Homo sapiens: one gene and its partner. The protein of the gene in region 1 interacts with the protein of each later gene in a biochemical or structural test. Each region holds a gene or a part of one and is shown in the gene's direction. Other genes may lie near its edges.

Region 1 (7,667 bases):
TATAAACACCTCTCATGATATTAAATTGCATGTTGCTTGGGAAAAGGTTTGTGGGATTTATTTTAGATGTCTGACTATAAAAGCATTTAAGATTCAGAGAGGCCTAGCATGTAGTTATCCATTTAAAAAGTATACCAGAGATATGTTTGTAGGGCAAATTTCAAGTCCTTACATCTCAAGTTTTAAAAAGTAGGATGCATCATGAAAAATCTGTCAAAAGCATTTGAAAAAATTGATATTCTTTTTATGATGGGTATGGACTTCTAATTCAATTCAAGATTTCTACCTATGTTGAGCATCTACTTGGTATCAAGACTTTTTCTAGGTGATTGGGACACATCAGAAACAATGGTCCTTGCCCTCTTGAATAGCTTGCATACTATTCTAGTGGGAAGGGGAACAGAAATAAGCAATAGGTACAATAAATTATTGAGTAGCATGTTAGAAGATAATATATGCTATGGGAAAAATTAAGGGGAATTGAGTGGCTACCATTTGAGAGTGATCAGGATAGGCCTGTTGAGCCAAGACTTGAAGAAAGTGATGGAGATAACTTTGGGTGCTATGCTGAAAATAGATAACAAGGATAGAATCAGGGAGACAAGTTAGGAGGCCATCATAGTAATCCAGTGGGGGGATATGATGGTGATTTGGATCAGGGTGGTAATGAAGGAAGTGGACAGAATCCAGATGTAGTTGAAGGCCTAACCAGTAGGATTTCCTGACTAAATGTGTAGATTAAATATTGGGAGAGAAAAAAATTACTACAAGGCAGGCATGATTCTACACACTTGAAGGCCTGGGGCAAGAGTACAATGGAGATACCGTATGTTTAAATATTTAAAAGTACTGTTTAATGAAAATATGCCCAATGTGCCTGTCTTGACAAACTTTCATTAGAACTGGGAAGCCAGGTTTGTATTTATGCCAGAATATAACTTGCGGGCAGAGCTGACCCTCAGCCCATGAGCCACCTTCCTTTTCTTCCCACCCCGGCTCTGAACTGTATGGCAAGGGGCCTCCTGCACATTTACTTGGATGCCATAACCAGTATATTCGAACTGCCCTATCCCCCTAACACATCAGTGCATGCAATGATGATGTAATGCATTTCCTGGAACAGCTGGGGCTATTCTGGGCAGGGTATTTGGGGTCTTGAGTACCTAGAGTGTAGTGCAGAATGAGTATGCTCTCTAGATTGACATGTCATCTTGACTCTAAAGCACTCAATCCTAAAGCTCAGGGCCTTGGATAAGGGCCTTTCCTGGCCTGGTGTAAGGGCAGTACTGATCTACGGTTTTTAGTTTGAGCATCTGTACAGAGGATTGCTGTCAACTGAGAAAGGGGGCTGCAGGTAGAGTAGGTTAGAGTGAGGAAAATAGTTTGGGAGCTCATTCACATGTTTGATTTCTTAGACTACACAAGCCGTACTGTAGAGAAGTGTAAATGGAGAATTTTCAACTTATAGTAGCACTCACTGGCCTGGAATTGATAAAAACTGAAGGCTGTTTTTCACTATAGTTAATTCTAACCTATAAACTGGAGCAGTTCCATGTAGGAATTTGTTAAAACCTATTGTGTATGAATTACAGACTCCTCTGACCATCCGAGTGTTCTTTTTCAGTTTTTTTTTTTTTTTCCTATGACCTAAAATCCCCTCAGACTTAAACCTTTAGTGAACTACTCAGTAAATGGCTTTACTAGTAAGTGTTCCCTTGCCTGGTATGTTTATTATTTTTTAACTTCAGTGTTTTATTCTTCGGCAGTAAGCAGTTGGATATAAGTTGGGGGTATAAATTTGGGACTCTGGCATATAGATGTTATTAAAAGTGATGAGACTGGATATCAACAAGGGAATGAGTGTAGATAAAGAAGAGAGCCAAAGACAAAGACTTGGGGCATTCCAACATTAAAAGTTTGGAGAGAAGAGAAAGCACCTCATAGAGGAGACACTGGAGATGTAAAGGAAAACTGAGTGATGTCCTTGAAGCCAAGTGATAAACTTTATCCAAGAGAAGAAAATGAACTGTCCAGTGCTGCTGATAGATAACTTTATATTGCCAGCTGTAAAATGTACTTTCAATTAGCCATTTCAAATTTGTTTACCAAAGCAATGATTTTGTTGGCTAGTTTTCTAAACTTCAGTAACTTTTCAGTGACTTGTAGGTTTTCATTGCATATACAGCTGAATTTTTTTTTTTTTTTAAACAGGGTCTTGCTGCCACCCAGGCTTGTATAGTGGTGCGATCCTAGCTCCTGCAACCTTGAACTTCTGGGCTCAAACAGTCCTCCACCTCAGCCTCCCAAGTAGCTGGGGCTACATGGCGCATGCCACCACACCTGGCTAATTTTTTTTTTACATTTGTAGAGGGAGGCCTTGCCATGTAGCCCAGGTTGGTTTCAAACTCCTGGGCTCAAGGGATCCTCTCACCTCAGCCTCCTAGAGTGTTGGTATTACAGGTGTGAACCACCATGCCTGGCCCAAAAGTTGTTTTTTTTTTTTTTAAGTTATTTTCTGTAATGCATTTTCTGTGAATTTATTGTCTTAAAAATTGGCAAATATGGCCATTTTGACATATTTGCCAAATATGAGCATATGGCAACTATGCTCTTAATTTGTTAAGTCACCAACTGTTGGTGGTAACTGTTGAAATAACAAGAGCAAAGTTATCACCAATCTACGGGATCCTTACACTACTGATATTTTCAATAATGCACCGTAGTCAGACATTGTAGACTTAACCTCTGAGCTGCTCACAAAATTACTAAATCATTCTGAAATACGTAACTGCAAATTCTGGGCTTTAAAGTCTCTAGTTAAATGGGTGATTTTGAAAATTGGTGGCTGTTCAGACATTTTCAAATGAGAATAGAATGCATTTGTTTCAGACTGATAAACTGCAGAAGGTTAGATAACACCAAACACATTTGAGTTTCTCCTAAGAAAATGACTTGGGCCTCCAGATTACATCTCATTTTTTTTTTTTTTACCCTATCAAGTTTGTTTTTCCATATGAAATGTCTTTCCCAACTACACCTGCCCTTGGAGACTGTGAATAACAGACTTAAAGGAAGTATCCTTTCCAGATGAGCTGAAGAATGTCATCCTCTTAAAAGAATGAACAGCTGGTCATGTAGAAATTCTCTGGAATGCTCACTTGTCCTACAAAGGCAGGGGAGCAGAAAACATGTAGTTTTTTTGTTATTGGTATACATAATTGTAAATCTTCGAGATAATTTTACTAGAAGTCCACATAATTTTAATAATTGCCTTTCTCCTGAAAAGATTGCTAATAAATTAACAATGTGAAGGCTAGAAAGCTGGCCAAGCATAATCCGGTGGGACTCAGGATTGCTGGCTGGATTGTCCCGTTTGATCAGACATTGTTTCTTAGATGAATATTCAGGACGCCCTCGTGTATAAAAGTTGTCCTTTGTTCTGACTACCTTGGTATTAAGTTCGAATTTCTTACCATGACACACAAAGGATTCGATTCTTGCTTAGCTCTCTAAGCTCCTCTCACTTTCTCTTCCCCTCTTGAATTCTTTGCTCTTGCCACACAACTAGCAGATGAACTAATCTATCTGTTCCAACGTGGGCACAGTAGCAGCCGTAACTCTTACCTTGGCCCACTCTGACTTGTCCAGCCCTGGTTGAATTCTTCGTATCCCCGTGAGGGTCCGCACGTAGTTGGGGCTGTTTACTAAACGGATGAACTTCCCTACCGGGAGGCTAGGTCTCGGTTATGCCTTACTTCCCAGGAAGCGGCTTCTATAGGCATTGTTTAAATGTAGGAGTAGGAGGGAGCTGGGGGTATTGCATTCCCCAGGTCACAGATAAATGAGATTCCAAAACCAAGATCTGGCTAGGCCTTGGAAAGAGGGACCTGCGAGGCCGACCAGACGTTTGGAACTGCGCCTTGCAGTGTGGGATCTCAGCACCGGATATTACCCCGGTTTGTAGAGAGTTGAGTTACTGTTTTAAGAGACGTTGCAAACCGTACGGGTCAAGAAGAAAGCCGAAGACGGGTTAGCGCCTGCGGTCGGGGTCGAGAAAAGCAGGCGAGATGCGACCTGACGTGGGTCCGCCTCTCTCCACCCGTGGCAAGCCCGACAGTCGCACTATTGCTTTAACAATCGCCCTCTTTCCAAGAAGAGCTACTTAGTGACCGTGAGCGAATATGCGTGGGAAGACACGATGTCCTCTCGGCCTCTGTGCGCTCAGTTGTTTACCTAGGCGTCCGGGGGAGGCACACTCGCGGGACTCGCGGGACTCGGCCCCGGCCTCCCAGCTCGCCCAGGACACGACGCTGGTTCTGCGGGCTCTCGGAGCCCAGCGCGAATCCCCCGGGCTAATTCCCAAGAACCGAGAGGCAGCACTGCCTGGAGGCTGCCCCCGCCTCCGCGCCCCCGTCCTCACTTTCTGAGGCTGTTAGCAGAGAGTCCCGCGGGCCGGGGAGAAGCGGGACGCGGGGGATGGCCTCGCAGCGCCCTGTGAGCGTCGGCAGTAGTCAGGCAGCCAGGGCTCCTTGGGCGATCGCCCTGGGTAGAGGAGAGGAGTTTCCGGGGCTCGGGTCCGGGTCGCCTTCCAGGGGAACGAGCGCGGAAGCAAGTGGGCGGCGAGAGGCGGAGCAAGAGACGCTGGAGGGCGTGGACGCAGCGGGCTTTGGAAAGGCCCCAAGTTAATGAGGCGTGCGCCGGCTGCCGAGCGCCTCTTGGAGCTGGGCTTTCCCCCGCGGTGCGGGCGCCAGGAGCCGCCTTTTCCGCTGGGTGTCACTCGGGGGTGGGGAAGATGGCCCATTCAAAAGCGCCGCGAGGGGGCCCGGCCAGTGCCCTTCAGTGAGCGCTCGCAAGAGGACGGCAGAGGCCCGGCAGCTCGGAGCTCCGGGACCTTGTGGCGCATCAGGACGCGGCTGTCCCTCTGCCGGGACCCAGAGCCGCCGCCGCCGCTCTGCCTCCTGCGTGTTAGCCTCCTCTGCGCGCTCCGGGCAGGCGGCCGTGGGAGCCGCTGGGGCGAGGACGGCGCGAGGCTGCTGCTGCTGCCCCCGGCCCGCGCGGCTGGAAACGGAGAGGCCGAGCCAAGCGGCGGCCCCTCTTATGCTGGGAGGATGCTGGAGAGTAGCGGCTGCAAAGCGCTGAAGGAGGGCGTGCTGGAGAAGCGCAGCGACGGGTTGTTGCAGCTCTGGAAGAAAAAGTGTTGCATCCTCACCGAGGAAGGGCTGCTGCTTATCCCGCCCAAGCAGCTGCAACACCAGCAGCAGCAGCAGCAACAGCAGCAGCAGCAGCAGCAACAACAGCCCGGGCAGGGGCCGGCCGAGCCGTCCCAACCCAGTGGCCCCGCTGTCGCCAGCCTCGAGCCGCCGGTCAAGCTCAAGGAACTGCACTTCTCCAACATGAAGACCGTGGACTGTGTGGAGCGCAAGGGCAAGTACATGTACTTCACTGTGGTGATGGCAGAGGGCAAGGAGATCGACTTTCGGTGCCCGCAAGACCAGGGCTGGAACGCCGAGATCACGCTGCAGATGGTGCAGTACAAGAATCGTCAGGCCATCCTGGCGGTCAAATCCACGCGGCAGAAGCAGCAGCACCTGGTCCAGCAGCAGCCCCCCTCGCAGCCGCAGCCGCAGCCGCAGCTCCAGCCCCAACCCCAGCCTCAGCCTCAGCCGCAACCCCAGCCCCAATCACAACCCCAGCCTCAGCCCCAACCCAAGCCTCAGCCCCAGCAGCTCCACCCGTATCCGCATCCACATCCACATCCACACTCTCATCCTCACTCGCACCCACACCCTCACCCGCACCCGCATCCGCACCAAATACCGCACCCACACCCACAGCCGCACTCGCAGCCGCACGGGCACCGGCTTCTCCGCAGCACCTCCAACTCTGCCTGAAAGGGGCAGCTCCCGGGCAAGACAAGGTAAGGTCCCGGCACTCGCGCTCCCGAGGAGTGGGTCTCGGGGGTAGTGAGTTGGGAGGAGTAGGAAGCTTGTTCACAGGTTCGGCTCCTGTATGGAGAAATCAAAACTCATACCAAGTTTCTGGGGCAATGGAAGAAACAGAAACAAGCTGGGGCCAGGAGAGCTGGGCAGAGAGGGGAGGCTGGGGAGATCCGGGCCAGGCAGGGGGCCTCGCGGACCGCGCCCGCGCCCGCGCCCATCACGACCGTCCTTGTCCCGTGGTGCGTCCCCCAGCCCCACTTGACTATATGTTTGGGCAGTTGAGGGAAACACCACGGTGTCTTTCTGAGCCCGCTTTGTCAGGCGGACTGGCCCGAACAGAACTGGTCTCGGAGGGTTCTTAGCCACCTACTTCACTCGGTGTCATTTCTTTCCAGGTTTTGAGGACTTGAGGAAGTGGGACGAGCACATTTCTATTGTCTTCACTTGGATCAAAAGCAAAACAGTCTCTCCGCCCCGCACCAGATCAAGTAGTTTGGACATCACCCTACTGAAAACTTGCGATTCTTCTTAGTTTTCTGCATACTTTTCATCACGATGCAGGAAACGATTTCGAGTCAAGAAGACTTTTATTTATGAACCTTTGAAAGGATCGTCTTGTATGGTGAATTTTCTAGGAGCGATGATGTACTGTAATTTTATTTTAATGTATTTTGATTTATGATTATTTATTAGTTTTTTTTTAAATGCTTGTTCTAAGACATTTCTGAATGTAGACCATTTTCCAAAAAGGAAACTTTATTTTCAAAAACCTAATCCGTAGTAATTCCTAATCTTGGAGAATAAAAAAGGGCGGTGGAGGGGAAAACATTAAGAATTTATTCATTATTTCTCGAGTACTTTCAGAAAGTCTGACACTTTCATTGTTGTGCCAGCTGGTTGAAATTAAAACTCTGATATTACTTTTTTTGAGGATTTTTATTTTTGTTTTTGCTTAAACATATAGTTTGTCTAGAAGTTTAAAAAGCTAAAAGTTAAAAATGGTGTAATTATGAAAATCTAACACTCAAGATAGTTTCTAAAAGGAAATCAGTAGTTAAGGATACCTGATTTCAAAATATTTAAAGCATAACCTAACTGATGGTAGGATGATTGTATCTTGAATATGTGGTAGGGCCACATCTATTGTAGGAAAACCTTGCTTTTATCATCTGTGTGTAAAGGGCTTAATAAGGAGAAGAGGCCTTTTGACTGATTTGTGAGTATAAATGCATTTGCTGTTTCATTTCAAAAATGTTGTGGAGGAAAAGAGTACATTTAACTTGTATAAGAGAATATTTGTACTCCTGTCCAGGCTGCAGGACCTTTCTTCGAGAGCTTTGCACACTTGACTTGAACCACATTTTCTGATCCCTTTACTTTGTTTTAGAAGCACACTGAAAAATCTCGTTGTTTAAAGTACAATTTGTAAATATTTCAAAGGTCTAGGAGTCATAACTTTTGTTTTCATACTGAAAATGATGTTGATCAGAGAAACCAACTGTTTTGCTTTTCATTGCTCTGTGAGAAATTTGAGGATTCTGTTTTGCTGTTAGGTAAGCTAAACTCAGAAATTGAAAAGGAAAAGACTGGATAAACACAGGATTTTCAGTAAGAAAACAACCCCAGTCTTGTCTTAGAAGCCACTTGTTGAGGAGTCTGTTGGGGGAAAAAAGAGGATATGCTTTTAAAGGTAGAACAAACCTTCTTCTGTGTTAAATCAAAAGGATG
Region 2 (7,024 bases), on another chromosome or scaffold:
CACTCTTGCTGCCCAGGCTGGAGTGCAATGGCGCGATCTCAGCTCACTGCAACCTCTGACTCCTGGGTCCAAACAATTTTCCTGCCTCAGTCTCCTGAGTAGCTGGGATTACAGGCACCCGCCACCATGCCCAGCTAATTGTGTATTTTTAGTAGAGATGGGGTTTTCACCATGTTGGTCAGGCTGGTCTCGAACTCCTGACCTCAGGTAATCCACCCGCCTTGGCCTCCCAAAGTGCTGGGATTACAGGAGTGAGCCACCATACCCAGCCCAGCCTTTGGTTCTTTAAATTGTCTCTGGTGTACACACGGACTTGGTTGGGAAGCTAAGGAAGCATTCCAAGGTGTTGGATGGGGAAGTTGGTTGAGCACCCAGGGTAGCTGAAGTCCTAGAATTCTACAGAACTTCCATTAAGGCTTCAAAAGGTGGGTGCAGGGCCTGCCATCTGCGCACTGTCTACTTAGGCAGAAGGTATGGTGGTTTTATCCTTGTGATAGTACAGAGAACTTTTCCATGTGTGATCAGTTGTGTCCATTTTGATGACTGATGCTTTTTTGTTTAAGTCAATTTCTGTTCTCAGAAATTGAAAATAAACTGGACTGAATTCTGAATTCAGGGATAGCACCTTTTTTTTTTTTTCCAGATCATTTGCTTTACAGGTTTTGTCACTTGTCTCCATAGGTGGATTGCAGACTAAATGACTTGATAACTTTGATGCAATACCTCACTGAAAAATAAATCAGATAATCTAGTATTAGTTTCGTAATTACTAGCTAGCTGCACAGCTTAGTTACCCTAAACATAAGTTTGTTCATTTTGTAAAATGTATAATTTCAGCTGTCCCACCTGAGTCATGGTGGGTGGTAGTCTGCAAAGTCTCTTCTAAGTGGTAAAGCTTAGTCAAATGTGAGGTATTATCACTGGATCTTGGTGTCATTAAGGCCATTTAGATTATCTTTACTTGTGGCCCCTTTATCCAACAAGGGCACAGACCCAGAAGGGTGTTTAGACTTCTGTCATGAAGTAGAGTCATTAGCTGGAACTTATGCTTCCCTTACTAACAGTGCAGGCTGGAGGAATCTGATGCCCTTTTATTTTAATAGAGTTGCCTTTTATCAAGAGTGATTACCTTGAAAAGTCCTGGAGTAATCTGTTCTTAGGCTGTTGGCCTGTGGGAGCTGACGTTTTCTCTCCTTATTGAAATGTGTTTCTCTCTTACAGCTGAGCGGGCTTTGGACACCATGAACTTTGATGTGATTAAGGGAAAGCCAATCCGCATCATGTGGTCTCAGAGGGATCCCTCTTTGAGAAAATCTGGTGTGGGAAACGTCTTCATCAAGAACCTGGACAAATCTATAGATAACAAGGCACTTTATGATACTTTTTCTGCTTTTGGAAACATACTGTCCTGCAAGGTAAACATTGATTAAATGATTTTAGCAGAATAATTAATTGATTCTTGAAAACAAGATAAATACCAAACAGAGAACTATCTTGGAATTGGGGAACAAGATATGGGAATTTTCAAAATGCTGGACATGGAATCCTAAAAGTTCCCATAGGTAATCTCAGGGCCATACCCAGCGTAACCAGCACACGCTTTCATACCCTTGTTCTTTACTCAGCCTGAAATATCCTTCCTATTCTTTAGCTTTGGAAAGCCCACGTTTTTCTTTTGGGATGGGGGAAAGTAGAGGACCAGAGAAGTGTCTCTAGTCTTGAGGAAACTTAATCACTTTAGAAGCATAAATTCACTCTATTCCTTCTACGTATCTGTTCTATGCTGAGCACTTTAAAACTTAAACGGTGGTGGTGTATATGTTTAATGCCATACTACACTGAAAATCTGTTGTGGCCTTGGAAAATGTTTTGTTTTCTGCATCACCGTGGTTTGCACCCAGATCTCTTAAAATGTGTTGTTGTGTTTTAAAGAGACAGAGTCTTGCTCTGTCTGTCACCCAGGGTGGAGTGCAGTGGTCTAGTAATAGCTCATTGTAGCTTCGACCTCCTGGGCTCAAGCCATCCTCCCACCTCAGCCTCCCAAGTAGCTGGAACTACAGGCACGTGCCACCACACTCATTTAATTTTTTTCTTTTTTGTAGAGACAGGGTCTCCATTGTCCAACGATCTGGCTCCAACGATCCTCCTGCTTTGGCCTCCCAAAGCATTGGGATTACAGGCATGAGCCACAGCACCCAATTTTAAGTATTTTTTGTTTGTTTGTTTTTGATAAAAATAAAACATTTGGAATAGAAGCATCTTAGTAGGGCTACCTTTGTAAATGGAACACTTACTAGGCACCTGGTGCTGTGCTAGGTGTTAGAAAAATTATACTGGTGTACTTGACCACCATTGGCCATGGATGGGCTAGAGTCTCCTCAGGCACAAGATACCCTGAGGTTCTCATGTCTCAGGAGCTGGCCAGTTCTGCTAAAGTGGTCCGCCTTGTCTTTGACAGGTGGTGTGTGATGAGAACGGCTCTAAGGGTTATGCCTTTGTCCACTTCGAGACCCAAGAGGCTGCCGACAAGGCCATCGAGAAGATGAATGGCATGCTCCTCAATGACCGCAAAGTGTGAGTGTCCCAGTCCGGAGCAACAACCATCGCATGAGCCAGCCGTGGCCCCACCTCGCTATTAACTGGCACACACAAGGCGGCTACTGGTTCTCGGCCCAAGTGTGGCCTGCTCCTACCTCTCCACTCCAGGGCTGGTGAGTCTCCCTGCCTGAGCCGTGGCAGCCCTTTTGACTCGCCAAGGTGGGCTTCCTGCCCAAGCCATGGCCTGCCTGCCGCCTCTCCCTTAAAGGCATCTGTCTGTGGGTTTTGTGAGCATCAACAACTGGGGCTGGCTGGAAAGCAGCTCTAAGCTCACTCTGAGTCGGGGTCTTGGCCAGCGGCAGAGTGGAGAGGGCCCTGGACTGACCAGGAGCTGTATACTAGCAGTGTGACCTTGGCTTTCCTGTGATTCAGGTCTGTCCATGGGTCCCTCGCTAGTGGTTGATGCCAAATTGTCCCCGCGGTTCTCCATTTTCTAACTTATGACTCAGTGACCTAATACAAGGCTGGCTCCACAGTAATACTTGGTGACAATGAAAAAATCCCATCCCTTTGCAGAAAAACTTCATAACAGACCTTGTTGCTTTGATGTGGTTGTTACTGTAGAATGCAGAGAGGGGGAACTTACCAAAGCCATATGGGGAGAAGAAGAGACAATAAGTCTTGGCTATTACAAGCCAAAATAATTTTTGTCCTTTGTGTCATTCAGTATGCCAGAGGATGGGTTATCTTTATAATGTCTGTGTGTGCAGTGGTTGATCTACAGATATCACTAAAAAGAAATACAAAAATGTCAGTGCATGGATAAATTTTCTTTTAAGTATAACAGACCAAAATAAATAAATTTAAAAAGCAAAGGGTGCCCCTTCACTCCAACAATCTCATATCTAGGATTAACCACTGTTAACAGTTTGGTTTGTATCCTTCCAGACCTTTTCTATGCATTTACATAGTTGCACAGAAATGAACATTTTAAAAACATGGCCATCAGGTTTCTTCATGAAGGCAGTGTGATGTGGTAGGAATAGCCCTGGTCTAAGCCAGGAGCCCTGGGGCTGGTCCTCACAGGATAGTCCTGCCTTTTTCTCTTTCTGCTGGGGACTTGGGGTATCTCTGAGCCTCCTTGGTGGTGGATGGGGATCTCGTGTTTTAACCTCTCCTGTCAGTCTTTAACCTGTATTCCTTTGGGTCCCTGGACATCATGTTTTATTCCTCTGGGTAATTACTGTTCTTCATGGTTTCATTTTAGATTTGTGGGCAGATTCAAGTCTCGCAAAGAGCGGGAAGCTGAGCTTGGAGCCAAAGCCAAGGAATTCACCAATGTTTATATCAAAAACTTTGGGGAAGAGGTGGATGATGAGAGTCTGAAAGAGCTATTCAGTCAGTTTGGTAAGTTGGGGTTCCTTGTCTCCTTTCACAGTCTACCAGACCCATCTGTTTTTTCTTAAGAGATGAGGGCACTGCTCCAGAGATTTGCTTCAAGTGAGTTTCCAGAGGGAAGCCTTCTGTTCCTGAGCTGTGCTCAAGATGGTGTTACTAATAGTTCTGTCCTTTGGTAATAGGTAAGACCCTAAGTGTCAAGGTGATGAGAGATCCCAATGGGAAATCCAAAGGCTTTGGCTTTGTGAGTTACGAAAAACACGAGGATGCCAATAAGGTGAGTATACCACAAAGATTGGGAAAAGCTTTTAAGAGGTTGCCCCAGAGTATGGGTAGGGTCTTGCTAGCACCTACCTAGAGCTGGGACGGTCTGAGTATCTGGTAGTAGATGTACCATTACTATACTCTGGGATCATCTTCCTGGGTTCCGCATGTTAACTTCATGTAGGTGTTTACAAAGCACTTGGCACATACCTGTCACCTCAGCTATCAGTTGTTGAAAGAATAGGACAGACGTTTGTTATGCTGCAAAGGTGAGAGAACTAAAGCCCAGTGAGTGCTGATTTGATAACAGCACGGCAGCTACTTGTGGGCAAAGCATTGTGCCAGACCCTCAATATTTATCACTTAAATACCCACAAAAGCACCTGCAGAATTTACTGGCAGCCGGAATATTATATCGCCCTAGGCTCATGTCAGCACACTTGTGTTTATACACCTGTACTATTTCTATATTATCTGGATCAATAACCCATTTAAATATTAACCTCACTTTACAGATGAGGAAGTTTGGATTTGTGTGACAGACTTCAGAGGTGGAGTGAATTTAGTTTTTAGTCCTATAGTAGAAAGAATATTTTTTGGGACTTAGACCTCCAGAATAAGACCCCATCGCTGCAACTTTATTTTAAAGACATATTTTTCCTCTCTAGGCTGTGGAAGAGATGAATGGAAAAGAAATAAGTGGTAAAATCATATTTGTAGGCCGTGCACAAAAGAAAGTAGAACGGCAGGCAGAGTTAAAACGGAAATTTGAACAGTTGAAACAGGAGAGAATTAGTCGATATCAGGTAAGGTGGTCTTGGCCCAGCCTAGCAATGGGATTTGCTGTGAAATATTTGCAGAACACCCCTATGTTTAGCGGGCTTTCTTTTTGAGGACTTGGAGTGTGTTCTTCTTCCCATTTTACCTAAAAAGATGAGGTTTAAAAGGATATATACCTACTACATATGACTGATTATTATAGAACCAGAAACAAGAGATGGGTTTATTCATCAAGAAGCTCTCTATTTTGGAAGCCTCAGCCTGTTGCTTTTAGCCATGTAGGTTCCTTTTACTTAAATGAGACTCCTTTGTTTGGCATGGCTTCAAGAAGACCCCTGCTGGGGTGGGTGAGTGGTCACCAGAACAGCTGTGGGGAGAGGTGACAAAAGGTGAGTGCACTGATGATCCTGTCAGTTTCAGGGCAGTAGTTTCACAACTTTGGACTTGCATCAGATTCATCAGCAGAGCTTGTTAAAACAGATAGCTGGGCTCCAGCCCCAGAGTTTTTCTTATTCATTGGGTTTGGGGTCTGGCCTAAGAATTTCATTTCTTTCTTTTTTTTTTTTTTTTCTTGAGACAGTCTCGCTCTGTCGCCCAGGTTGGAGTGCAGTGGCACAATCTCGGCTCACTGCAAACTCCGCCTCCCGGGTTCGCACCATTCTCCTGCCTTAGCCTCCTGAGTAGCTGGGACTACAGGCACCCGCCACCATGCCTGGCTAATTTTTTGTATTTTTAGTAGAGACGGGGTTTCACTGTGTTAGCCAGGATGGTCTCGATCTCCTGACCTTGTGATTCGCCCGCCTCGGCCTCCCAAAGTGCTGGGATTACAGGCGTGAGCCACCGCGTCCGGCCGAGAATTTCATTTCTAACAAGTTCCCAAAGATGCTGGTGCTCCTGGTCTGGGGCCACCCTTGGGGAACCACTTTCTTAGGGAATATTTGTGATATAGAAGTGTAGTTAACAGTGATCTTTTTCCTTCAGGGGGTGAATCTCTACATTAAGAACTTGGATGACACTATTGATGATGAGAAATTAAGGAAAGAATTTTCTCCTTTTGGATCAATTACCAGTGCTAAGGTATTATACTGCGATCTGGGGATTGAAAGCAGTGGTATTCCATTATAGGCTTATTGGCATTTGTCCCATTGAAGGAATAGCATTTAAATTATGTTCATTTCTGAAAGTAGCTACTACGTTTTTCTAGCAAAATTTCTGGATGCATTCTGGAGAATGACATTTCATTAGGTTAACATTACACTGTTTCCCAAGCACTGGAGTCTGGAGAGGAATTTGACCCAGCCCCTCCTTGCCAACTCAGAGCACCTGAATCTTTCCCATTCCTTGCTGCCTCGTGCCGGTGTGGGGACAGATGGTGCTACAGAATGAGCAGAGGAAATCCAGACAGGTTGTTTTCCATTTGTCTTGGGGCCTGTCTCTACAGCTCTGCCACATTTTCTCCTTGAGAATGAAGGTATTTTGAAGATTTTGGAGGTGGGCTTGGGAACTTCTACCCTGGTCTTAAAAAGAGAGGAAAGGGGAGTGGAAGGTTTTTCTATGTTTCGTAGTGTGCATCATTTGCTTGATTTTCTTTGATAATCATATCAACTAAGTTAGCAGGGTAAGTAGGAACCTCATTTTAAAGATAAGGAATTTTAGTCCTTGAACAAGAGAATGCTGACTACATGGGGATGGTGTACTGCTTGTCCTTGGCACTTTGGGAGCAGGATGGAAACTGGTGCCATCTGAACATTTTGAGTTATGGCCGGATGCAGACGCCGGTCTTGCTAAACAGGTGTACCAGATGCCACAAAATCCTTTAGTTGATGAGAAGGGAAGCCACGTGGGCTGGTAAGGGCTTAGTGGCCCTGCCCTGGCTCTTAGTGGACTTTGCTCCCAACCTGGGAATGTGGAAAGCAATGTTATCAGTTGTAGTAGGGAGTTGGCCAGAGGCCAACTGTGGGTTTGCCCAGTTCTTACCCTTTCGTTTTTGCTATGACCCCCCCCTTGACTGGCCCTCATCAGTGTAAGGAGTGATCTTCTATCC

The links.
Region 2: the proteins of PHLDA1 (region 1) and PABPC4 form a complex in vitro, tested with the Homo sapiens proteins (one study listed by BioGRID).

What each region holds. Positions count from the first base shown.
Region 1 is NC_000012.12:76,028,760-76,036,426, reverse strand, and holds the start of PHLDA1 (pleckstrin homology-like domain family A member 1), read left to right. Parts: upstream 1-4,650; 5' UTR 4,651-4,685; coding exon 4,686-5,891; 3' UTR 5,892-5,917; exon of another isoform or gene 5,918-5,933; intron 5,934-6,334; 3' UTR 6,335-7,667. UniProt on the Homo sapiens protein: Seems to be involved in regulation of apoptosis. May be involved in detachment-mediated programmed cell death. May mediate apoptosis during neuronal development. May be involved in regulation of anti-apoptotic effects of IGF1.
Region 2 is NC_000001.11:39,566,784-39,573,807, reverse strand, and holds part of PABPC4 (polyadenylate-binding protein 4), read left to right. Parts: intron 1-604; exon of another isoform or gene 605-727; intron 728-1,129; exon of another isoform or gene 1,130-1,221; coding exon 1,222-1,415; intron 1,416-2,458; coding exon 2,459-2,574; intron 2,575-3,184; exon of another isoform or gene 3,185-3,328; intron 3,329-3,805; coding exon 3,806-3,945; intron 3,946-4,118; coding exon 4,119-4,213; intron 4,214-4,868; coding exon 4,869-5,006; intron 5,007-5,961; coding exon 5,962-6,057; intron 6,058-6,297; exon of another isoform or gene 6,298-6,434; intron 6,435-7,024.